Linked DNA regions of Homo sapiens. The protein of the gene in region 1 purifies or fractionates together with the protein of each later gene. This does not show direct contact. Each region holds a gene or a part of one and is shown in the gene's direction. Other genes may lie near its edges. The genes, in order: FAM98A, SUMO3, SPATS2, SULF2, PPP1R10, NSRP1 and GTPBP4.

Evidence for each region.
Region 2: the proteins of FAM98A (region 1) and SUMO3 purify together in Homo sapiens (pull-down; one large-scale study listed by IntAct). This does not show direct contact.
Region 3: the proteins of FAM98A (region 1) and SPATS2 purify together in Homo sapiens (co-immunoprecipitation; 2 studies listed by BioGRID and IntAct, with this or other methods). This does not show direct contact.
Region 4: the proteins of FAM98A (region 1) and SULF2 purify together in Homo sapiens (co-immunoprecipitation; one large-scale study listed by IntAct). This does not show direct contact.
Region 5: the proteins of FAM98A (region 1) and PPP1R10 purify together in Homo sapiens (affinity purification with mass spectrometry, with the first as the bait; one large-scale study listed by BioGRID). This does not show direct contact.
Region 6: the proteins of FAM98A (region 1) and NSRP1 purify together in Homo sapiens (affinity purification with mass spectrometry, with the first as the bait; one large-scale study listed by BioGRID). This does not show direct contact.
Region 7: the proteins of FAM98A (region 1) and GTPBP4 purify together in Homo sapiens (affinity purification with mass spectrometry, with the first as the bait; one large-scale study listed by BioGRID). This does not show direct contact.

Annotation. Positions count from the first base shown.
Region 1 is NC_000002.12:33,589,300-33,592,799, reverse strand, and holds part of FAM98A (protein FAM98A), read left to right. Parts: intron 1-585; coding exon 586-720; intron 721-3,500. UniProt on the Homo sapiens protein: Positively stimulates PRMT1-induced protein arginine methylation. Involved in skeletal homeostasis. Positively regulates lysosome peripheral distribution and ruffled border formation in osteoclasts.
Region 2 is NC_000021.9:44,811,563-44,815,062, reverse strand, and holds part of SUMO3 (small ubiquitin-related modifier 3 isoform 1 precursor), read left to right. Parts: intron 1-958; coding exon 959-1,087; coding exon of another isoform or gene 1,088-1,201; intron 1,202-3,500. UniProt on the Homo sapiens protein: Ubiquitin-like protein which can be covalently attached to target lysines either as a monomer or as a lysine-linked polymer. Does not seem to be involved in protein degradation and may function as an antagonist of ubiquitin in the degradation process.
Region 3 is NC_000012.12:49,496,462-49,499,961, forward strand, and holds part of SPATS2 (spermatogenesis-associated serine-rich protein 2), read left to right. Parts: intron 1-371; coding exon 372-548; intron 549-3,500.
Region 4 is NC_000020.11:47,670,482-47,673,981, reverse strand, and holds part of SULF2 (extracellular sulfatase Sulf-2 isoform a precursor), read left to right. Parts: intron 1-1,588; coding exon 1,589-1,784; intron 1,785-3,500. UniProt on the Homo sapiens protein: Exhibits arylsulfatase activity and highly specific endoglucosamine-6-sulfatase activity. It can remove sulfate from the C-6 position of glucosamine within specific subregions of intact heparin.
Region 5 is NC_000006.12:30,603,744-30,607,243, reverse strand, and holds part of PPP1R10 (serine/threonine-protein phosphatase 1 regulatory subunit 10), read left to right. Parts: intron 1-387; coding exon 388-465; intron 466-602; coding exon 603-776; intron 777-1,000; coding exon 1,001-1,106; intron 1,107-1,208; coding exon 1,209-1,321; intron 1,322-2,149; coding exon 2,150-2,250; intron 2,251-2,508; coding exon 2,509-2,656; intron 2,657-2,732; coding exon 2,733-2,891; intron 2,892-2,989; coding exon 2,990-3,236; intron 3,237-3,400; coding exon 3,401-3,464; intron 3,465-3,500.
Region 6 is NC_000017.11:30,175,816-30,179,315, forward strand, and holds part of NSRP1 (nuclear speckle splicing regulatory protein 1), read left to right. Parts: intron 1-2,255; coding exon 2,256-2,384; intron 2,385-3,274; coding exon 3,275-3,482; intron 3,483-3,500. UniProt on the Homo sapiens protein: RNA-binding protein that mediates pre-mRNA alternative splicing regulation.
Region 7 is NC_000010.11:1,001,934-1,005,433, forward strand, and holds part of GTPBP4 (GTP-binding protein 4), read left to right. Parts: intron 1-3,500. UniProt on the Homo sapiens protein: Involved in the biogenesis of the 60S ribosomal subunit. Acts as a TP53 repressor, preventing TP53 stabilization and cell cycle arrest.

The DNA of each region.
Region 1 (3,500 bases):
AAGCAGCTATGAAGAATCTTTAAAAGCAGACAGAAAAAAATCAGATTGGATGAGGGAGAAATTAGGGAACCATTAAAGACTCCCAAATAAGAGAATGACCTAATGAACACTGAGAAAGAAAATTTTAGATTGGGAGCAGTGGCTCATGCCTGTAGTAATCCCAGCACTTGAAGACGCCAAGGTGGGAAGATAACTTGAGGCCAGGAGTTTGACACTAACCTAGACAACATACTGAGACCTAGTCTCTACAAAAGAATTTTCTAAATATTAGCCAGGCATGGTAGCATACACCTGTAGGCCCAGCTATTCCGGAGACTTAAACAGGAGGATCCTTCAAGCCCAGGGGTTTGAGGTTACAGTAAGCCCTGATCACACCACTGCACTCCAGCCTAGGCCTCAGAGACCTTATCTCAAAAAAGAAAAAAAAAGAAGAAACTTTGCAGTGGTGTAAGAAAGGATAAATTAGAAGGGGAAAAAACTCAAGTTATGAAAATCCTATTAACAATTTCAATTATATATAATAATTGTTATGCTAATGGAAAAATAATCACTATCATTAAATAAGATTATTTTAATTCTTAAAAGGTCCGAGTGAAGCTGAAGAATTCCAGCTTGAGGTGAGTGGGCTACTAGGGGAGATGAACTGCCCGTATCTTTCACTGACATCTGGGGATGTGACCAAGCGCCTTCTCATTCAGAAGAACTGCCTCCTCTTGCTCAGTAAGTTCATGGCTACTAGAATATAGCTATTACTTTCTGTTTATGTTTTCCATGACTAATAAACTGACCATGGTTTTTTGTTTGTTTATTTCATTATGAATGTAATTCAAAATTCATTTTAAAATAAAACTTTCTTAAATTTCCAATTTAGGAGCTGAGGGTAGACGTGTGCACTGGTAGCATTATTGTTTTTGTAACTGATACTCTTTCAATATTTCAGCCTCAGTGGTACTCAGGCCGTTGTGCTTCTCCTAATGTGATCACTGGTAGTTTTGGAGTGTTGCTCAAGTGTGTGATCATTAAACTTACATTTTAGACTAGAAGCACATTTTTAAGTATATTAGGAAGATAGTATGGAAATAATGGAGATTTTGTTTAGAAATTCATTTCTTTGAGGAGAGTAAGCATTTATAATAGTAGATACAGTTAATGGTTAATGTAATTTAAAGTATTTTGTCTTGTTGCTATTTCTTTGTGGTTGGGTAATTGGGGATTTTGGTTTTGTTTGTAAATATTCTGGAATAATACTTGCATTGTTCTGGTACTTATTCTGAGAAATGAGTTTTTATGAAAAGTTCTTTCCTTCCATGTTTTTTACATACTTACTACTGTTTTGTCTCTTCACACTGAAAAACAGTAAGTAGATTCAAAAATTTTATTGCCTTCTATAAACTTTCCAATAAATACAACCTATAGTCTTAACTCAGAATTTATGTAGCATTCTGAAGCACATTTACATTAAGCTTTGGTTAACTGGCTATTATAGTTCTCATTATGACAGACAATTCAGAGGATTTTTAAAATCTTTGTTTTTACAACTCTATTATGGTTTCTGAAAAAATTATACAACTTCAGTTTTTAAGGTTCTGTTAAAAAAAAAAAAAGTGTTCATAGCCATTATACTTAGGCACTAAGTTATTCCAGAATCACTTTTGTAACTTCCCCTTTGTCTGTCAAATGATTGTTATTGTGGGAATGTGCACGTAAGGTTAGGTGTTGCTTTAGATACTGATATTGCTGCTGGTAGTTCTTACATATTCATTTAATATTCTTCATATTGTACAATTTCTGTAACTGATTCAATAGCAGTATACTCAGCTGATTCTTCCTTTATAGCATTGCTTATCCTTTACCAATATTTGGCACTTAGAATATGTTATCTACATAGGAAGATAATAGCTGTGTGGAATGCTTACTAATGACCCTGAATAGCTAATTCTTCCAAAGAGCTCAGAGTTTGGCCTTTTTAGCACTGATACTTATACAAACCACTTGAATGTAAGTATAAAATGCCTTTCACACTTTTCTGTTTCTTAAGCAGACTTCAGTGAACATTATTTTGGACTCAGGGTCATAATTCTAGACTTTATTTTAATCTGCTATCATCACCTCAAATGCTTTTCAAGAATATACCACTATTTGCTCTTCAATTAAATGACTAAATCATCTAGAGGTCACTCACTTTTTATATTCTTCATACATACATATATACACACTGTTTCCCTCTTTATCTTTGCTTCTGCCGATTCTCCCTTTCTAAAATATTCTCCCCAGTTTGTAACCTCTCTTTCATTCTAGCATTTACCTACATGTACTCATTTTTGACTTGGTCTATGTAAATATTTCTCATCTTTTGAAGTATCAGTTGTCACATCTGGATGCTATAATTTTACTTTTCCAGCACCCTTACCTCACTAACTTGAATCTTTTATCACATTGTATTTTAGGGGGGAAAACAAACCAGCCTCATTAGAATTGTTGGAAAAATAGAATAGCCTTTGAGTGAGAGGCTGAAAAGCTCTCATGTATCAGATTAAGGACTCTGTTTGGCTCTTCATTGGCCTTTTATGGTTCTCAGAGTGTTGCCCTTACGTAAATTAAGTAAGATGTCTGAGTTCCTAATAGATGAAGAACTATTCATCTTTTATTTTTGCATATACTCTTTATTCCTAACTAGATTATCGGAAGAGGTCATCTTTTTGATGTTTTAAAAAATGTTATCTTCAGTGCCTTTCCCAGTGCTTTGAACATACTGATTACGATTAAAGTTTTTTCATGATAATTATATTGGTAACCTAATTTTGTGAATACCTGAACTATGTTATCCCAAATTTACAGAACCAATATATTAAATCATATAGTATATGATTTTCTAGAACAAGAGTTGGCAAACTTTTTCTAAAAGGGCCAGATAGTAAATATTTTTGGCTTTGTGGCCCTAAGTTCTCTGTCACAACTACATACCTTTGCTGTTACAGCATGAAAGCAGCCATAGACAATATATAAATGAGTGAGTGTGGCAGTGTCCTAATGAAACCTTATGTACAAAAACAGTGGTTGTTGTCTTAACAGTGGGGTTTTACTGTTTTGACGTTTTAACTCATAAATACAGTTTGCTGTATGGAACATGTTAAGATTTTACAGTGTCAAATCCATTTAGAATGACCTTTCCAGAAACTTAGCTGTATTTATTGTTTTAGAACAGGAGTTGGCAGCCTTTCAGAAATGATTTGCCAAAATTATGGCCTCTGTCCTTCTAGCATTACATTTTGGGTATAGGAAATTTGATACACAAGTTGACTTTTTTCTACTTCTAATAGGACCTGAGGGCCTTGAAAATATCTTTTCCCAAAACTGGTTTTGTTATATTGTCAGAAGAATCTCACTTTGTCACATAACCAGAAATCCTAAGATTCAAATGATTCTTAATCATCTTTTATAAAAATTGAAATGTCCTTGGGAATGTTAAAGGAATGAGATTGAATATTTATACCTTCAAC
Region 2 (3,500 bases), on another chromosome or scaffold:
TTTCAGAGTGAGCCGGAGGGCCCTGCCTCATTGCTTCACTCACAAACGACTTTATCCCAGCAGTGCAGGCCGGCAGAGGGGTGCCCCACTTTTCGGCTCAGACTGAGCTGCCCCGAAGTTGGCTCCCAGTCTCTTGACATCAGCTTTTTGCCTCAACTCAAAATGCATTTTCAGGCAACAAGACACCCCGATTGTGCCATTGTTGAGTAGCTTCAAGTATGGCATGAATTAAAAAATAAAATAGTACCACCTACTGCCGCTCAGATAGGACAGTTTGAAACCAGAAAGTACTCGGAGGTGGCTTCCCTCACATTTGCTGATGTCAGGGCAGCGAGAAGGAGCCTGGCCGCCTGCTGTGGGGAGTGGCCGTCCTCAGTTGGATTCCCGAAATCACCACTTGAATGTCCCATAGGGTTCCTCTGAGTCACAAATGTTTTCTTCTGTTTTTGGTTTCTTTTACTAGTGCTGTATAGCTGCATGACTTTTGGATATGTGTTTTTACTGGTTTCATAAGAATTTTTTAAAAAAGAGATGGGGTCTTGCTCTGTTGCCCAGACTGGTCTCAAACTCCTGGGCTTACGCCATCCTCCCACGTCAACTCCCAAAGTACTGGGATAACAGGTGTGAGCCACTGTGCCCAGCCCACAAGAATAACTTTAAAATAAAGATGGATTTTCTCTTATTTTTCCCTAGACTTTGTTTTTTTCTTTGAATTAACAATGTCAGAGGACCCTAGGCTTGCATTGTTTTACACATGGATGCTTAACAAGTGGAAGTTAAAAATAAATTCTGTGTAAAAATAAAACCATCACGAGTGACTCTGAATTGCTGGAGAATTTTAAGAATTAGGTTGGTTTTGATGACTTTAAAAAGCCAACAATTACCTAAAGACTTGCCCATTCAAGTCGCGGTTATTTTGAGACACAGTTTTGAGGCCAGTCTCTGGTGTCTTCTGCAGGAGGGTGTGAAGACAGAGAATGACCACATCAACCTGAAGGTGGCCGGGCAGGACGGCTCCGTGGTGCAGTTCAAGATCAAGAGGCACACGCCGCTGAGCAAGCTGATGAAGGCCTACTGCGAGAGGCAGGTGCGGCACCTTGCTCCCCCGCAGAGCCTCCCCGTGTGCGCACTGGTCCTGTGCGTTCCAGGCATCCCCAGAGCACGAGCGTCTCGGGGCTGGACCCAGATGCAGCTGCCCGAGGTGCCCTCTTCGTGGATGGGCAGGCGGGGGCTTGTGCTGTAAAATTAGTCCAGGCTGGGCTTGTCCCCCATGGCCTTTTATAAGGTGGAGGGACCTAGAGGCTCGGAGAAGTGTGGTGGGTTTTTCTTCCTGACAGGGCGGCTGCCCGGGGTGCTGTGTTCTCCATGGGGTACTAACATCTGTGAAGTCTGTGATGCTGAAGGCTCTTGGGGGCCCTGCTCAGGTCTGGCCATTCTGGGGCTGCAGGTGGCGTGTGCCCCACGCCGCTGTCACCCTGTCCTCGCGTATGAGCTGGCCTGACCCTGGAGAGACACTGCCCTCATGTGCGGTGTGGTTTTCCATTTTGTTAGGAAAGGCAAGAAAGCGCGTGATTCTTTCCCCTTCTTCCCCAGTTTCAGGATAATGAGCTGCCCCACTGGCAGTGCCCAGCTGGGTGGATGCCTTCTGGCTGCTGTTTGTGACGTGGTGTGTGTGTGTCTGTTGTTCTTGGTAACGCTGTGGCGGACTCACCCTGGGCCAGGGGGTCCCTCTCTAGGCCACTTTTATGGGCTTTGCCCACCAGCTGCTGCCTGGTGTGTTGGGGGCCCGGCCCTGCAGCCAGGCGCCCTTCCCCAGGGAGCCCTGCTTGCCTGAGTGGGACCTAGAGGCTGCTTTTCTTCAGCCGCTTTGAAAATACAGCAACTCGTTGCCCTTTTATTTTACTCTTTTGCCTGTGGATTTTCAGTTAGATTTCCTCCTCTTTCCCTCCCACTTTGGATACCCTGCTCATAGGGGCAGTCACTGGCGACTGCCTTGCATTCTTTATTGGCAAGCAGCCCCTGACTTCCTTTCTTTGTGTTTGCTGAGGGCAGATCTTATTTTCACCTGCGAAAGGTGAGACTGAGCTTCCAGACACGCAGGTCCCGGTCTTCCCAGCAGAGTGAGTGGCCTGGCGCCGTGTAGGCCCCGTGATCCAGCCTCTGCCTGATGCTGGGCCCTGGCCCTTGCTGGAGTTTGTACTGCCTGGGCTCGTGGCCACTGTGTGTGTGACTTCCCGGGTGCCCATGTTCTCCTCTGCGCTGCGGGATGGCAGGCGTGTGGGGCCGTGTACATGTGGGGGGGGCTCTGCCCTTCCCCCTGCTCTCCCGGAGCTCCCCTCCTGCCCCACCTGCACTGCTGCTTGTGAGGCTGGCTGCTCAGCCGTGGTCCAGGGCCTCCTGTTCAAATCCTTCTAGAAACTTGGGTTCTCTCTTGGGTGTTTCCTGGATTAGTCCTCCTCCCTTTTGTGTTTTGTGGTGGAGCACATCCTCCAGGGTCTTGTCAGAACGGGCACAGAAGGGCAGCGTCTTTGAGACACTGCATGGCTGAACGTGACTTTTGCTTTTATAAACCTTCACACTTCAGTATGTGGCTGCACGTAATATTCTCGGTTGAAACTTTTTTTTCTTTTTTATTTCAGAGGTCAGCCATGAGAATAGCTCCCAATGTTAAAAGTGAAAAGTTCACCAGGCATGGTGGCTTATGCCTGTAATCCCAGCACTTTGGGAGGCTGATGTGGGAGGATCACTTGAGGTCAGGAATTCAAGACTTGAGGTCAGGAGTTCAGTGCCAAGCCTGGGCAACACAGGGAGACCCTGTCTCTACGAAACATTAAAAAAATTAGCCAGGTGTGGTGGTGCAAGCCTATAGTCCCAGCTACTCAGGAGGCTGAGGTGGGAGGATTGTTTGAGCCCAGGAGGTGGAGGCTGCAGGGAGCTGAGGTCATATCACTGCTCCAGCCTGGGTGACAGAGCAAGACCCTGTCTCAAAAAAAAAAAAAAAAAAAAAAAGGTGAGAAGTTCAGTGGATTCTGATTCTCTGTGCTTTGTTTGTAACTTGGTTTTTCCCTGGAAGTATCTGGGACCATATTCTGGCATTCAGTGTTTCCTTATGTGCCTCAGAGGTGGGTGATTTTCTCACTCATGCTGCTGGGCACTTTATGGGTCTGGACGTTTATTTTTATTCAGGAAATATGCCTTATGTTAGTTCTCTGATAATTTGTATCCTTCTCCAGACTCTGTTCCCTCTTTTTGGAGTTCCTGTTCCTCCTGCTGCTCATTGTCCTAGATATTTTAAATTTGATAATTTTTCTCCCATTTTGCTTTGGGCTTTATTGTTGCATTTGGGCTTCTTTCCGGGAGGTCATTTCAACTTTATCTTTCCACTTCCTGTGGACATTCTCATCTCTGTCATGATTTTTAATTTCCAAAAGTTCTTTTTTCTTTCTGTTCTTTGAGTGTTCTTTTTTTCTCAGTAGCAACTTATTTTTTTTGAGACAGGG
Region 3 (3,500 bases), on another chromosome or scaffold:
TTTTCTTAACATGGAGGCTTGCAGAAGTTGGTGATACTGACTTTCTTTGATTCCTTGTGCCAGACTTACATAGAAACTACCAAGCTACAAAGAAGCCACAGAGCCACAGGGATTGAGCTCCCTATCTAAAGATGTGTTGCCACAGACTCTTCTCTTCATTCCGGACGCCACTTAAGACTAAGCCCGAAGCTGCCGATAGCCATACCCAGCTGATTCTGATCTTTGTTCTATTGTTTCAGTTGATTTTGTTTACAGTCTTTTAAGAGGCATGGTTTTGCCTCAAACATTTTTACCTGTTTTCTTTGTGTACTTAAGAATGACTGGTTTACTCCTAAATTGTGCTCTAAAGTACAGTCCTCTTTCTTGGACAGGATCCATGCTGCAGAATGGTGTCTCTGATTTTGAGACCAAGTCTTTGACTATGCACTCTATTCACAATTCTCAACAACCCAGGAATGCTGCCAAATCTCTCTCAAGACCTACCACAGAAACTCAGTTTTCAAATATGGGGATGGAAGATGTTCCCCTCGCCACCAGTAAAAAGCTAAGTAAGTCAGAGGCCCACCTGTGAGAGAAAATGAAAAATCTGTGTTTTTGGCTAAAGAGGGCAAATTATCTCTGTTGCCATAAATAAGGTTTCAGAAGGGCATCAGTTAATATTTTTCCATTTTCCAGACAGTGACTGACTACTCAGCCCTTCCCCTAACCTTTGTGTACACAGTTGGAGTCTGAAAGTAGTTTAAATGCTGTACAATCTACTTACGACGGCACGTTTTGTGAATTAAAGTCAAACTCTACTGCCAGAATGATTTACCTGCTAACATTAACCTGTTTCTTTATTTGCTTTATTGCAACGTTTTGGTGCTATTTCTTTCATTTTTATCTTCTGGTTGACCCAACAAGTAAAAGCTCTACCTTCTCTGACATTGACTTTTTTTTTTTTTTTCCCCCGAGACTGAGTCTCACTTTGTCCCCCAGGCTGGAGTGCAGTGGCGCAGTCTTGGCTCACTGCAAGCTCCGCCTCCCGGGTTCATGCCATTCTCCTGCCTCAGCCTACCAAGTAGCTGGGACTACAGGCGAGTGCCACCATGCCCGGCTATTTTTTTGTATTTTTAGTAGAGATGGGGTTTCGCCGTGTTAGCCAGGATGGTCTCGATCTCCTGACCTCGTGATCCGCCTGTCTCGGCCTCCCAAAGTGCTGGAATTACAGGCGTGAGCCACTGCGCCCAGCCAACATTGACATTTTAAAGAAATATTTTCACTCCTCTTCATAACTTCATGCTCTTACTGAGCTAGAGTCCTCTGACAGACTCTAGCTTAGAAAAAGTAAGGTCATTTTCTCTTAAGTATGTGGCGTTGACTGGTGATAGCTCTTTGCTTAAAAAAAAAAGAAAACTACAATAATCATTTAAACAAACAGCCAGTAATTCAGCAGACAGAGATAATACCCTGTGTTTCCTATATCTGAGTTTCATACATCTAAGCATGGTGGTCCACTCCACTAAACAAATGAAACATAGAAATATAAAGGACACTTGTAATCAGTAGCTCTTTATGGAATTATTTATTACACATGAGCCAAATTTTAATTAGGTAAGCTCCCCTTTTTCATTGTTCTGGTAGCCCTCAGCCTGTTGCAGATCAGCAGGTTTGAGACTATCCAATCAAGCCAAAAAAAAAAAAAATATATATATATATATATATATATGCGCACAAGGCTTGAAAGCTTTTAGGTGGATTCTAAAAAATAAAATCAAGTTGAGATGAGGAAGAATTTAAATAAAAAAATTGGAAATGCATATCTTGGCATAGTTACAAACTTTTTAGATCCATGTTTCCAGCAATCAATTATATATGTAATTTGGGGATTGGTGAATATAGAAAGGTAAATAGAACTCTTGGAAATTGGTTAAAATGTGTTGAGTAGGTAAATGCAGTCCATCCTTTTCTACAAAGCTGGCTTCCTCATATATACAGTGCTTTGAAGTGTACTATACAGACAGAACATTTTAATTTTGTAATGTCCACATGGTGAATTATATTCTATTAAATCCTGTAACTTAAGGAATTTTGAAAATTTGGTACCTTTTTTAAAGTCTTTTTTCTCTGTGTGTTTCATTTCATTTTGGATAGTTTGTAAAACTGCTGTCTTCAACTGTATTCATCTTTTGTTAACAGTTTCTATTCTGCTGTTAATTCTATGCAGTATATGTCTCTGGCATTGTTTTATTTGTCTCTAGAAGTTCAACTGGGGTCTTTTAAGATATCTTCCATATCTCTTCTTACCACGCTTATGCTTTCCTCTACCTTCTTGAACATATGGTATCTATTTTTTTTTTTTTTTTTTTTGAGATGGAGTTTCACTCTTGTCACCCAGGCTGGAGTGCAATGGTGTGATTTCAGCTCACTGAAACCTCCGCCTCCCAGTGATTCTCCTGCCTCAGCCTCCCGAGTAGCTGGGATTACAGGTGCGTGCCACCACACCCAGCTAATTTTGTATTTTTAGTAGAGACAGGGTTTCACCATGCTGGCCAGGCTGGTCTTGAACTCCTGGCCTCAGGTGATCCACCCATCTTGGCCTCCCAAAGTGCTGGGATTACAGGCGTGAGCCACCACACCTGGCCCTATAGTATCTAATTATAATAGCTGTTTGATGTCCTTTTCTACTCAATTCTATCATCTGTGTCATTTCCGCATCTGCCTCTGTGATTGATTTTTTCTCTTACTTATAGGTCATATTTTTCTGTTTCTTTTAAGCTTTTTTAGGTGGGACTAGAGCAGCCTTTAGTCTAGAAATAATTTTGCCCTGTTGCTGAGGCAGTATCCTTCCAACTACTCTGCCTGCCATATATTGTGAGGTTTTTCCACTCTGGCTGGTGTGAGCACAAACTGTCCCTGGCCTGGTGAGCTCTGGGGATTGTTCTGCCTGGTTGTTTTGTTTTGTTTTGTTTTGTTTTGTTTTGTTTTGTTTTGTTTTGTTTTTTGGTGGTTCTTTGGTTTTGTTTTGTTTTTTTTTTGCCTGTTGTCTTTCCAGTCTTGGGTAGTTTCTTTATACTCATGCACTGGTCCACACTCAGAATCCTCTGTGGATCTCCGTGCAGCTCTCTCATGTGTGTAGCTCTTTCCTCACCAATACTCTGCCCCAGAATTTCAGCCATCTTGGCCTTTCCAAATTCCCAACTTTGTCCCTTCAATTCAGGGGGTCCACCAGGCTGTTGAGGATTTCTCCTCCCTGCATTGTAGCCTAGAAACTATTGAGGCAGCAAGTTGGGGCAATCATAGGCCTCACTTCATTTGTTTCTGTTGTCTCGGGAAAAGTACTACCTGTTACACATTGTCTGAAAACCATTGTTTCATATATTTTGTCTTTGTATGTTTTTAGTTGTTTAAGATAGAAGAATAAATCCAATTATTATTATTCCATCTTGACCAGGATCCTTTTTTTTCCAAAAATCTATAAAAACATGTTTTTCTCATTGGGGAAGGTGGTTATTTAGGAA
Region 4 (3,500 bases), on another chromosome or scaffold:
GTTGGGTTGGAGCGGGGAGCAGGCAGTGGGGAAGGAGAATTCCAGGCAGAGAGAGCTAAGTGGACAGGAGGCTGCTCGCCAGCGCACACAGCTCAGGGCTTCACGCAGAACTCAGAGCCCTGGCTTTTCTTGAAAAATCAGACCTGGGCTTCTGGGCCTGTGCTCCCCTCTGGCGACAGTCAGATGGGTATAGCCGGTCACAGTGCCCACTTTAGCCTCCCCAGGTCCCCCAGGCGCTTCTGGGCTGGCCTCATTCAGGGCCATGCCTGCTGGCCCATCAGTCTACTTCTGCACTAAGGAATCCAGGTTGCTGGAAGGGCCTGCATGCATTGAAGGGGATGGGAGGGTGGCAGGGCGCTGTGAATGCAATTAGATTCAGCCTCCAGGTGAGAACAGATGGGCGGGACAGGGGCAAGATGAGCAGGTGAAAGGCACCAGGGCCTTCAACGGCAGCGGGCGGGGGCAGACGGTGCAGCAGAGGGTTGGGGGGGATGGTGGCACCAGACTCCACACTTTTCCTTACAGCTCTTGCACCTCCCAGTTGTGTGACCCAGGACACATCTCTCTACCTCCGTGTGCCTCATCTTGAATCGGCACAGTAATGACAGCACCTGCCTCGTAGGGTAGCGTGAGGTGTAGTAAGCAAGTTAATATATTAACACACAGTGCTTGGCACATGCTAAGTGCTGGAGAGACACAGGGAACAGATCTGACCCATGGCCTGGAAAGGTCACTTTGGCACAGAATAGGCCCTAAAGAGTCACTGGGTCAATGGGCTGGAGCAGCTGTGGACAGAAGGGAAGAGAATCCAGTTTACAGGTGGTTGCAGAATCCCGTGAGGGGATCCAGGAGGCTGGAACTGGGGAAGAGCAGAAGGATCAACACGAGAGATTTGGACAGTGATTCTATCTACATTCAGCGTCTGACCACAGGCCTGGAGTTGAGTGCACACGTGGAGCCTCTGCACACACTGCACTGATTGAGTCTGGGAAGGTGGTCAGGGGAGACCTCCTTGCGCTGGAGCAGACGGGAAGGAAGAGAAGCCTCCAGCAGCAGGAAGGGCTGGAGAAAAGGCATTCTAGGCAGAAGGAACAGTGAGCGCCAAGTCCCTGGGGCAGCAGCCCACAGGGGATACTGGAGAGAGGGCTGAGGGAGAGGAGGACCGATGGGTAGGCCAGGGCCAGATTGCAGAGGATGTTCAAAGACTAGTATCAGGAGCTTGGGTCTTGTCTTAAAGACAGTGGGAGCCATTGAAGGGTTTTAAGTAGGAGAGTAATATGATCCAACTTGCCCTTTAAAAAGATTCCTCTAGCTGCCATGTGGGTGGATTTTAGGAGCAGACAGAAGCAGGTAACCGTGAGAGTGGTGGCTGTCGGAGGCATCTCGCTGGGGGATGATGGTAGCTCTGCCCAAGGTTCAAGCAGTGGCAGTGGAGAGAAGCGGCATTGGAGATAGCAGAGGTGGGGCTCGGTAACAGCTGGATGCAAGCAGGGAGAGGGATGTCTCCAGGGTGGATGGGGGTGGCAGGGGAGAGGCGGGTTTAGGGGAGCAGATGAGCAGCTGGCCGAGGCCCTGGCATGTCTTTCAGAAGTGGCAGTGTGTGGAGGACGCCACGGGGAAGCTGAAGCTGCATAAGTGCAAGGGCCCCATGCGGCTGGGCGGCAGCAGAGCCCTCTCCAACCTCGTGCCCAAGTACTACGGGCAGGGCAGCGAGGCCTGCACCTGTGACAGCGGGGACTACAAGCTCAGCCTGGCCGGACGCCGGAAAAAACTCTTCAAGAAGAGTAAGTGTCACAACCTGGCTGAGTGGGACAGGAGGAGAGAGACCATGCCTGGGGGGCCCCATTCATTCACTCCGACAGTTCCACAGAGACTGTCACTTTGCCAGGTGGTGATCTAGGGGCTGGGGACACAGCCACATCTCCTCACGAGCCACCCATTCTAGTGGGGAGCAGTAGTAATAAACAGATAAGGCCAGGCGCAATGGCTCACGCCTGTAATCCCAGTACTTTGGGAGTCCGAGGCAGGCAGATCACCTGAGGTCAGGAGCTCCAGACCAGCCTGGCCAACATGGTAAAACCCCGTCTAAAAATACAACAATTAGCCAGATGTGGTGGCTCACGCTTGTAATCCCAGCTACTTGGGAGGCTGAGGCATGAGAATCGCTTGAACCCAGGAGGCAGAGGCTGCAGTGACCCGAGATTGTGCCACTGCACTCCAGCCTGGGCAACAGAGCGAGATCCATCTCAAAAAAAAGGAAGAAACACACATACAAGGTTCTGTATTGATTGGCTGGTGAAAATGCTAGGACCAGAGGTTCACAGGAACCCAGCTCTGTGCTTCCCCTAGGAGCCATGTTTCAGCGTTCAATTAGTCAGTGTTTGTGGTGAGTTTATAGAACTACCCTGGGCTGGGCGCGGTGGCTCACACCTGTAATCCCAGCACTTTGAGAGGCCGAGGTGGACAGATCACTTGAGGTCAGGAGTTCAAGACCAGCCTGGCCAACATGGTGAAACCCCATCTCTACTAAAAATACAAAAAATTAGTTGGGCGTGTGGTGTGGCAGCAGAGTCGCTTGAACCCGGGAGCAGAGGTTGCAGATAGCTGAGATCACGCCATTGTGCTCCAGCCTGGGCGACAGAGTGAGACTCGGTCTCAAAAAAAATAAAAAATAAACTACCCTGAAGAACAAAAATAGACTATAGTTGAGTGGGGAAAAGCCTCACTCAGCTGAAGAAGTGTCTACACCTTCACACCTCATTCTCGGCAAGGGCCGAGGAGAGGACAGTCAGACAGAAGCCAGGGAGCAGGCGAAGTGGAGAGAGGGACTCTTCTAGACCCAGCCAGAAGGCTCAGCCGCCACCCTGGGCCATCGCTTCACCATTCTGAGGCTCAGCTCCCACCATCAAACAGGAAGAATGGTCCCTGCATGACTTTAAAACAAGAATGAGCCTGTGCCCTGAAAATGTGTGGAGGCGTCGGGGTCCGCCGGCTAGAAGTGTGCCCTCCAAGGCTGGGCAGCTTCCCACGTAGCCCATTTCTCTGGCCTAAGGACAGCCAAAGCCTAATGAGAGATTTTAGGTGTTGTTTTTAAAAAAAATTATGGTGAAATTCCCATAAAATTTATCATCTTAACCATTTTTAAGTATCCAGTAGTGTCAACTATATTCCCACTAGTACGCAACCTATCTGCTAAATGAACTCTTCATCTTGCAAAACTACAACTGTCCCCATTCAACGTTATCTCCCCATTCTCCCACCCCGCTCCCACCCCCACCCCGTTCTCCCACCCCGCTCTCCCACCCTGCTGTCACCCCATTCTCCCACCCGTTCTCAGCAACCACTCTTCTTCTCTATGAGCTTGACTGCTTTAGGGGCCTCATGTAAGTGGAATTGTACAGTATTTGTCCTTCTGTGGCTGGCTTATTTCTCTTCGCATAATGTTCTCCGGGTTCATCCACATGGTAGCCTGTGTTGGAATCTCCTTCCTGATCGGGCAC
Region 5 (3,500 bases), on another chromosome or scaffold:
TGGATTTTGGTTACATGTATAAGTTCTTTAATGGTGATTTCTGAGATTTTGGTACACTCATCACCCAAGCAGTGTACACTGCACCCAACGTGTAGTCTTTTACTAATGTAGATTTTAACCACATATTCTGAAATATTAGGTCTTTTTACTCCAGAGTGGTGTGATGACATCAGAGTTGAAAGTTATCCAAGTAGAACACAACTCTAATTCATTGTTCCATTTTTTAAGGGTTTGGTTTTTAAGCATATCTCATGTTCTTCTTAAAACTTTGGGTTACTTTCTCCGTTACATAAATTTTCACAATATTTTCTCAAACCTCCCATTTTCTGTTCCTGGAAGAATGTTACTTTACATTATTTAGGCATTTCCCCTTTCTGTCACCTGCAGAGCTCCGGAAATTGGCCTCAGTCCTTGTCAGCGACTGGATGGCTGTCATCCGCTCTCAGAGCAGTACCCAGCCTGCTGGTAAGCTCCTTAGTCCTTTATCCTTTGTATTTATTTCTTTCCTATTGGGATGTGGCCTTTAGGTGCTCCCAGTCTGCTTCACCTCTGACAGTGTTCATCTAAATAAAATCCTTTTCTGCTTTGTTTTTTCACAACAGAGAAAGATAAGAAGAAACGTAAAGATGAAGGAAAAAGTCGAACTACCCTTCCTGAGCGACCTTTGACAGAGGTGAAGGCTGAGACCCGGGCTGAGGAGGCCCCAGAGAAGAAGAGGGAGAAGCCCAAGTCTCTTCGCACCACAGCACCCAGTCATGCCAAGTTCCGTTCCACTGGTAAGACTGGCGGCTGGCCTCTGGAGGGTTCATGGGCATGTGCACACCCAGAGCCTTATGGGGGAATCATTTGATGTGTGGTATGTTAATCGTAAGGAAGAGGGAAGACTAGCAGAGGAAGCTTTGGTTACAAGGCTAGAAGAACATTTGCGGGTGAGAACGGGAGGAAAATTCGGGGGTCTGGGGTTTGAGTTCAGCTGCCCACACCGTGCTTCTTTCCCCAGGACTAGAGCTGGAGACACCATCCTTGGTGCCTGTGAAGAAGAATGCCAGCACAGTGGTGGTTTCTGACAAGTACAACCTTAAACCCATCCCCCTCAAACGTCAGAGGTATGGACCATATTCTCAGGCTCTGAATGGGGTGGATCTGTGGACACAAGGGAGCAGGAGGGGGTGAGTCGGAGATGTTGATGACAGTTCCTCTTCTGACAGCAACGTAGCTGCTCCAGGAGATGCCACTCCCCCTGCAGAGAAGAAATACAAGCCACTCAACACAACACCTAATGCCACCAAAGAGATCAAAGTGAAGATCATCCCGCCACAGCGTGAGTCTAAAGTGGGGAAGATGTACTTTGAATTAGGAGCAAACTTTTTTTTTTTTTTTTTTGGAGACAGAGTCTCACTCTGTCACCCAGGCTGGAGTGCAGTGGCACGGTCTTGGCTCACTGCAAGCTCCGCCTCCCGGGTTCACGCCATTCTCCTGCCTCAGCCTCCCGAGTAGCTGGGACTACTGGTGCCCGCCACCACGCCCGGCTAATTTTTTGTATTTTTAGTAGAGATGGGGTTTCACCATGTTAGCCAGGATGGTCTTGATTTCCTGACCTCGTGATCCACCCACCTCAGCTTCCCAAAGTGCTGGGATTACAGGCATGAGCCACCGCACCTGGCCAGGAGCAAACTCTTATGGGAATGAATGTCCCTGGGAACGAGAAGTTTTTTCCCTTCTCTTTTATTATTTCCCTCCATTTTCCTTTGATTTCTTGGTATCCCTTACTTTTTGTACCTCTGGAACTCCCGTTTCAGGGGTCACTTAGGAGTAATTTTAGAGATAAGATAGGGACGTGTGCCATTCTGTGACTGGTCAGGGGCACCTGGTAAGGTGATCTGTCATGTTCACAAGGGCTCACTTCGTCAGCTACCTGAGCTATAATTCACATCCAAAGCTATGGCTTGCCTGCCATGAGAAACCTAGAATAACAACAAGAATATCCTGTGTGAATCCTCCTGCATGTGCTTCCTGGTCCTCTTGAGCTTATCGTGTCCTAAGTTGAGGCAGGGTCTTCACTGGCTCATTTTATGCCTGGACTGTGTTTGCAGGTGTAGGATTATGAAGGAGGTCTGATGATGCCATTTGGTGCTCTTTCTTTTTGTAGCTATGGAGGGCCTGGGCTTTCTGGATGCTCTTAATTCAGCCCCTGTTCCAGGCATCAAAATTAAGAAGAAAAAAAAAGTACTGTCACCTACGGCTGCCAAGGTATGGGCTCCCAGAAGTAGGTTTCAGTGACAGAGTATAAAAGGTAAAGTAGAAGAAAGGGCACAGCAGCTAGGAGTTGTCGGGGAGGACAACAAGAGGCGTTTTGCCTTGGATATAGACTGGTGCAGGTGAGACATTGTGGAGACAGAGTCTTCCTTTATATAGGAACTGTTGGGGGACTGTGCCTGGGACCCTGGACTAATTGCCTTGCCCTTGGCTTTCCAGTCAGTTCATTAACTTCCTTTTCTTTCACAATAGCCAAGCCCCTTTGAAGGGAAAACGAGCACAGAACCAAGCACAGCCAAACCTTCTTCCCCAGAACCAGCACCACCTTCTGAGGCAATGGACGCAGACCGTCCAGGCACCCCGGTTCCCCCTGTTGAAGTCCCGGAGCTCATGGATACAGGTAATCTAGAAACTGGTTCAGTTTGGGGGGTTTTCTGAAAGGAGGGATCTGGGTCTGAAACCTCTTCTGCTTCCAGCCTCTTTGGAGCCAGGAGCTCTGGATGCCAAGCCAGTGGAGAGTCCTGGAGATCCTAACCAACTGACCCGGAAAGGCAGGAAGAGGAAAAGTGTGACATGGCCTGAGGAAGGCAAACTGAGAGAATATTTCTATTTTGAATTGGATGAAACTGAACGAGGTAAGAGGTCATTTCCTACGTAATAGGTGTGTTTAAGGGATTTTGAAAGGACTTGGTTGTGCTTACTTTCCCTCTTGCTTTTCTTCCCCTGCCGACAGTAAATGTGAATAAGATCAAGGACTTTGGTGAGGCGGCTAAGCGAGAGATACTGTCAGACCGACATGCATTTGAGACAGCGCGGCGTCTGAGCCATGATAACATGGAGGAGAAGGTGCCCTGGGTGTGCCCCCGGCCCCTGGTTCTGCCCTCACCTCTTGTCACCCCTGGAAGCAATAGTCAGGAGCGATATATCCAGGCTGAGCGGGAGAAGGGAATCCTTCAGGAGCTCTTCCTGAACAAGGAGAGGTGAGCAGAGTGGGGTTCGTGCCCTGGGATGTTGAGTGCTTGGACACTCCTGAGGGAACATGAGCTGGGGTAATTACGGGGTGGAGGTTAGAAATTACTTTCAGGGTCTGAATTAATAACTTGACTATCATTCTTTTTTCTCTCACCTGTGTTGTTCCTGATAGTCCTCATGAGCCTGATCCTGAGCCCTACGAGCCCATACCCCCTAAACTCATCCCCCTAGATGAGGTAAGTCAATGTTCTGTGATGATGGAAGTTGTGATG
Region 6 (3,500 bases), on another chromosome or scaffold:
TCCTCTGTGTTTGAAAATGTTCTGTATTGATACAAAAATTAGCCGGGCATGGTGGTGTGCACCTGTAGTCCCAGCTACTCAGGAGGCTGAGGCAGGAGAGTCACTTGAACACAGGAGGTGGAGGTTGCAGTGAGCCAAGATGGTGCCACTGCACTCCAGGCTAGGCAACAGAGCAAGACTCCGAACCCCCCCCCCAAAAAAAAAGAAAAAAGAAAATGTTCTCTATGTGTCCATTGGGCCAGTTGTGTTAATCCATATATATTCATACTGTTTTTTTTTGTTGTTGTTGTTGTTTTGTTTTGTTTTGTTTTGTTTTGTCTGTTCTGTTACTGAGAGGCATATGTTAAATCTCCCACTGTGATTATGGATTTGTCTATTTTTCCTTGAATATCTGTTCAATTTTTGCTTTATTTATGTTGCAACATAGTTAATAGTAACATATCTACTCAAGTGCTCCCCTACAGCTCTCCTCCCAACATATACAAAGGCATGTCATCAGTTTAAAACAGCCCTGGCCGGGTGCAGTGGCTCATGCATGTAATCCCTGTACTTTGGAAGGCCAAGGTGGGTAGATCACGAGGTCAGGAGTTCGAGAACAGCTTGACCAACATAGTGAAACTCCGTCTCTACTAAAAATACAAAAAATTAGCCAGGCATGGTAGCAGGTGCCTGTAATCCTAGCTACTCAGGAGGCTGAGGCAGGGGAATCGCTTGAACCCAGGAGGCGGAGGTTGCAGCGAGCCAAGATCCTACCACTGCACACCAGCCAGGACAACAGTGCAAGACTTCGTCCCCCCCCCCCCAAAAAAAAAACAGCCCTCAGTCTCCCTTTTTCCTTGCTTTTTGTTATTGTAGTGGTGATTATTTCTTAGATTCCATGTTTCCCTCTTTGTGTTATCCAGGCTGGTTTTGGGGAGTGAGCAGGAGTGCCAATTCAACATCTAGGCAGGAGAATCTTTCACTTTCTAAAGGTTGAGAAGTGAAAAAAATGAATTTCTTAATATTTTAAACAATATTCTAGAAAAAAAGTTTTTCAGTTAGCATGTGCATTATTCAGAGTTTAAATGTTGGTATGTAAAAACCCTAGTCTATCAGATAGATTCTTTTGAATAATTATATCATCCTATCACTTAAAAAGGATCCCTCTTGGGTTCTACATTAGCCAATCTAGCAATTGAGGAAAAAATCAAAGTGTGTAGACTCTGTACCTCAGGAATTTACAACCGGGGGCAAAAGGCTAAGATTTGTAAAACAGGAAGTAAAAACGCCCATGCCTGGCATGGTGGCTCACGCATGTAATTCCAGCACTTTGGGGGGCGCTGAGGTGGGTGGATCATTTGAGCCCAGGAGTTCAAGACCAGCCTGAGCAACATGGTGAAACTCTGTCTCTACAAAACATATAAAAATTAGCCAGGCATGGTGGCACACGCCTGTAGTCCCAGCTACTTGGGTGGCTGAAGTGAGAGGATCACTTGAAGCCTGGGAGGCAGAGGTTGCAGTGAGCCAAGATCACACCACTGGCACTCCAGCCAGTGCGACAGAGCGAGACCCCATCGCTTTAAAAAAAAAAAAAATCTAGTGTAAATATTGCAGAATAGAATGTTCCTCAGAGTTTAGAAGAAAGATCATTGGGGGTTAGAGGCCTCAGAAATGGGCTCATAGAAGAAGTAGGGCTGGCCCTGAAACACTGGGTAAGATTTTGATCGCTTGAAAGAGGAGAAAAAAACATCATTTGAGATGGAAGGAACATGATAAAGGCAGAGACTTTATGTTTAACAACTCTAAAAATGATAATGAAAGTTTAATATATAATACAGGCCTCTCAAAACCAAGGTTAGGTGTTTCCATCGTACCTTTTGACCTTTTGATGGGTATAATTATATACAAATGAATAAATGATAATAATAGTTGATGTTTATTGAATACTTATTCTCTATCAGGCTCTGTTTTAAGTTTAGTCATTTAATTATAACAGCTTAGAATGTAAATATAGTCATTATTCTTTCTCTTCTAGATGAGGAAATTAAGGTACCAAAAGATTACAAACAAACTTGCCCGGAGTAATTAGTAAGTGTAGAGCCAGCATTCATACCCAGGCAGCCTGGCTCCAGAGTTTATTTGTATTTCCTATCTAAAAATGTGATTGTAATTTTTATGATATATTTTCAATTTATGAACCATTCTCAAAAAGCATAGACTTTGTTGTATCTATTGGCTGGCTCATATTTTTGAAACATGTTTAATTTTTTTTTAAGACCAAACTGGAAATCCAGAAGGCCCTTGCAGAAGATGCTACTGTGTATGAATATGACAGTATTTATGATGAAATGCAGAAAAAAAAGGAGGAAAATAATCCCAAATTGCTTTTGGGGAAAGACAGAAAGGTTTGTAAGCTGAAATAACAAACTTTCTTTGACCTTGACCTACATTTTGTGTCTTAATCTTATTTTAACATGAGAATGATCTGAGAAAAAGCTTTTAGGTATGTGAGGTGTGAAGAGTCCCTAATTCCAGATATTACAAATTTGATTGTAGAACTCAAGCAGCACTACATATTATCCTAATAGGCCAGGTGAATTATCTAACAATTTTGCTTTTTGCTTTGAAACCTTTGCAAATAGTTTTTTGAAAACTTTTCCTTGGAATTCTAATGTACCAAATTTGTACTGTTCCTGCCCTGTGTATGTTTATTTGTGTTTTATTACCCTCTCATTTTTTCATTTCTTCCTAGCTGGTAACTGAATCATCTGCCTGCACCTATCATGATTTTATTTTCAGTGAGAAAAAAATTTGGGAGGGGTAAAAACTGAAATAAGTTCAGATTTTCTTTCTATCAACTCTTGTTCTTTCACAAGCACAGGCTGATTTTTAAGGGCATTTGCATCTGACAGTTATCTACTAGTAGAGTGATGGTATAAAATTATATTAAGCTACTATTTTAAATAGTCATATTTCTACTAAATGTGAAAAACTAGCAGGAACTTTTCTGATTTTTTTTTAATTAAGATAATACCAGAAAAAAGAAAAAAATTATATTTAGTTTGATGTTTTATTAAAGTTAAATCGCATTATAAACAATTTCTATCTCTGCTACACCTAAATTTTTATGGAAAACAGTTTCAATATTAATCTTGCTAGTAAGTTTATATTGAATGTAGGGAAGACAATCTTATTTGGGCCAATCATTTCTATCTTAATGAATTCATTATAAAAATTATAATATTAACAATTACTATTTTTTTACTCTTTTCCTAAATCTTTTTTATTTCCTTAGCCCAAGTATATTCACAACTTGCTAAAAGCAGTTGAGATCAGAAAAAAGGAACAGGAAAAAAGAATGGAAAAGAAAATACAGAGAGAACGAGAAATGGAAAAGGGGGAGTTTGATGATAAAGAAGCATTTGTGACATCTGCATATAAGAAAAAACTGCAAGAGAGAGCTGAAGAAGAAGAAAGAGAAAAGAGGGCTGCTGCACTGGAAGGTAAAATGAAAGAGTGGG
Region 7 (3,500 bases), on another chromosome or scaffold:
TTTTTTTTGAGATGGAGTCTCGCTCTGTCACTGAGGCTGGAGTGCAGTGGCACGGTCTCGGCTCAGTGCAGCCTCCACCTCTGAGGTTCAAGTGATTCTCCTGCCTCAGCCTCCTGAGTAGCTGGGATTACAGGCGTGCGCCACCACACCGAGCTAATTTTTTGTATTTTTAGTAGAGAGGGTTTTACCATACCGGCCAGGCTGGTCTTGAATTTATGACCTCAAGTGATCCGCCCACCTTGGCCTCCCAGAGTGTTGGGATTATAGGCGTGAGCCACTGCGCCTGGCCTACAGTGCACTTTAAATCCAGTATTTGTTGATTCTTTTTTGCCTAGGATCTGTCTAATGTTGCGAGTCTGATGTTGATGTCCCCAAATATTATTGACCCCTTTTATTATTATATAATGACCTTCTTGTCTCTTTTTATTGTTTTTGACTTAAAATCTGCTTTATCTGATAGAAGTATAGCTATTCCTACTTGCTTTTAGTTTCCATCTGCGTAGAATATCTTTTTGCATCTCTTCATTTTCAGTCTATGTGTGTCTTAATGTCTTTACAGGTTAAGTGAATTTCTTGGATACTTTTTCATGTTTTCATGATAGTGATTATTGTCTTCGCTTCCAGATGTAGGACTTTCTTAAGTATATCTTGTAAGGCTGGTCTAGTAGTGACGAATTCTCTGTTTTTGCTTTTCTCGGAAAGAATTTATTTCTCCCTTATTTCTGAAGGATAGCTTTGCTGGATGTAATATAGTTGGCTGGCAGTCTTCTTTTTTTTCTTCAACACTTTGAATATATATCATCCCATTGTCTCCTGGCGTGCAAGGTTTCTGCAAAGAAATCTGCTGTTAGTCTAATGGGGATTTTCTTATATGTGACTTCAAGCTTTTCTCTAGCTGTTTTTAGAATTTCCTTTATATTTGACTTTTGACAGTTTGACTATAATGTGCCTTGGGGAAGACCTTTCTGGGCTGACTCTATTTGGGAATTCTTGAACTTCCTGGTTTTAGATGTCTATACCTCTCCCCAGTCTTGGAAAGTTTTCAGCTATCTCATTAAATAGGTTACTAAGCCTTTTCCCTTCTCTTCTCCTTCTTGAACTCCCATAATGCCAGCATGTATTCACTTAATGTTGTCCCATAAATCTTATAGGCTTCCTTCATTCTTTTTCGTTCTTCCTGCTTTTTTTCTCTCTGACTAGGTAGTTTCAAATGACAGAGATTTTTTTTCTGCTTCATCCAGTGTGCTGTTAAAACTGTCTATTGTATTATCTCATCCATTGAATTCTTCAGCTACAGGATTTCTGTTTGACTCTTTTTTACAATTTCTGTCTCAGTTTAAGTTCTTGTTCATATCATGAAATTGTTTTCTTGATTTTGTTGAATTATCTATCTGTATTTTGTTTCTCATTGAGTTTCCTTCAAAAAAATTATTATTTTGAATTCTCTTTCTGGCAATTCATTGATTTCCTTTTCATTAGAGTCTGTTCCTAGAGAGTTAATATTCCTTTCATGATTTCTTATTTCCTTGCTTTTTCATGTTTCTTGTGTCCCTGCATTGATGTCTCTGCATCTGGTAGAACAGGAGCCTCTTTTATACTTTCTTCTAGAGTGGCTTTCATGGAGAGGTTTTCACCTCACTTGGGTTTTACTGTGCCATTTGGGAAGAGAACCGTGACTTTCTGGATAGGAGCAGTGACATTGTTTCTGTGCAGCTTCCTCACCTCCATGAAATGTTGGCAATAACTGGGTGGCTCAGTGGCCTCAGCTCTGGAAGTTTGTGCCAGCGGTGGTGTATGTTTTTAAGGTCCTTGGTGTCAGGGGCTTTTGGGGTCCTGCTATTCTTGTTTTTCCCGCAATGGGGGACTTATCTGAGGGGATCTTTCTTGGTGTCAGGTCTGACATGGTCTGCAAGCAGCTGCCACAGTGCTGGGTTTCAGCTACAGGTACTCAGGGTAGCTGTGGGACTGGGGTCCTAGCCTTAGGGTCTTGTGTGCCTATCATGGCCTGGCCTTGGGGTGCAGGTTTACTCTCTGTGGTGGATCTCTGATCCTGAAGCACCCCTAGCAGCTTAAGCCCACAGGGCAAGGCTGTGGCTGTGGCTCCACCCGTGGGGTCAGGGCACAGTCCTGGCCTGACTCCAGGGAAGACGCACTCTGGAGGTTTGAGCCTGGGAAGCAGGGTAGAGCTGTACTTCAGAAACCTGAGCCAGTAGGGAGGGCTTAGTGTCAGCTCAAGGGGAACTCTGGACCCTGGGATGGTGGGGCCCAGCAGTATCCCAGACTCTCTGATGCTAGGTGAGGTGGCAGCAAGGACCCCAGAATGGACTAGTCCAGCTGTCATTTGGGCCCTAGAGGACAGGGAGGAGGACAGCAGTGACTCCATTTCCTGGAAAGAGTGGTGACTCTGCAGCTCAGAATATAGGGTTAGTCCAGCTCCAGGGAGCAGGTGCTGGAGCTGTTTGCGTGGTGGGGCAGGTGCCTCGGCTCAGCCCCTGCCCTGTTTCCCTGGGGTGTGGAGTACAATGTCAGCTCCTCCCCATGGTATGTGGCTGGTCAGCCTGGGCCTGAGGGTTGTGACTCTTCTGGGCGCCCCAGGCACCGTTGCCCTGGGATACAAGGTACCTCTTCAGCATAGACGCTGGGATATGTGACCATTCTGGGCATTTCCCAGGAAGCAGGGCACTGCTTCAGCTCAGGCAGCAGGGAGACAACGTTCCCTGAGAGGCCACGGTGCTATTTACCAGGAGGCAGGGTACCGTTGGGTGCTAGAGCAAGGGCTAGTAGAGGGGCTCCACCTCCACCAAGCCCTGCTGGGAAGGGGTAGCAGCTGCTCACAGCTGGCTTGGGGATGTTGGGCCACCAGGTTTGGGTAGTTTGGAGGCAGTTTAGCCTCAGGGATGAAGGGGAGCTGTGGCCACTTCCCCTGAGCAAGACATACTCCAGCCGCAGTTCCAGTCCCAAGATGATGGAGTATAGCCGCCCCATGGGCCCAACAGACAGGGCCCAGTGTCAGCTCCTTCTGTGTGGGAGCACAGCTGTGAGGATGCCAGGGGGCTCCGGTGGTGAGGGCTGTGGGTGTCCAGAGTGGTGGCAGGGCTGCTGCCATCCTCTTGCTTACCCCCTCACCGTAGGGAGAACCTCCTCCTGGGTCCCGTTGCATCCCAGCTGTAGGGTGGGTTGCTGGCGGCCCAGTGTGTTTTTTTTGGTTTGTTTGTTTGTTTGTTTGTTTTAAGACGGAGTCTCGCTCTGTCCCCCAGGCTGGAGTGCAGTGGCGTGATCTCTGCTCAATGCAAGCTCCACCTCCCAGGTTCACACCATTCTCCTGCCTCAGCCTCCCGAGTAGCTGGGACTACAGGCGGCCGCCACCACGCCTGGCTAATTTTTTATATTTTTAGCAGAGACAGGGTTTCACCATGTTAGCCAGGGTGACCTTGACCTCCTGACCTCATGATCCACCCGCCTCGGCCTCCCAAAGGCTGGGATTACAGGCATGAGCCACC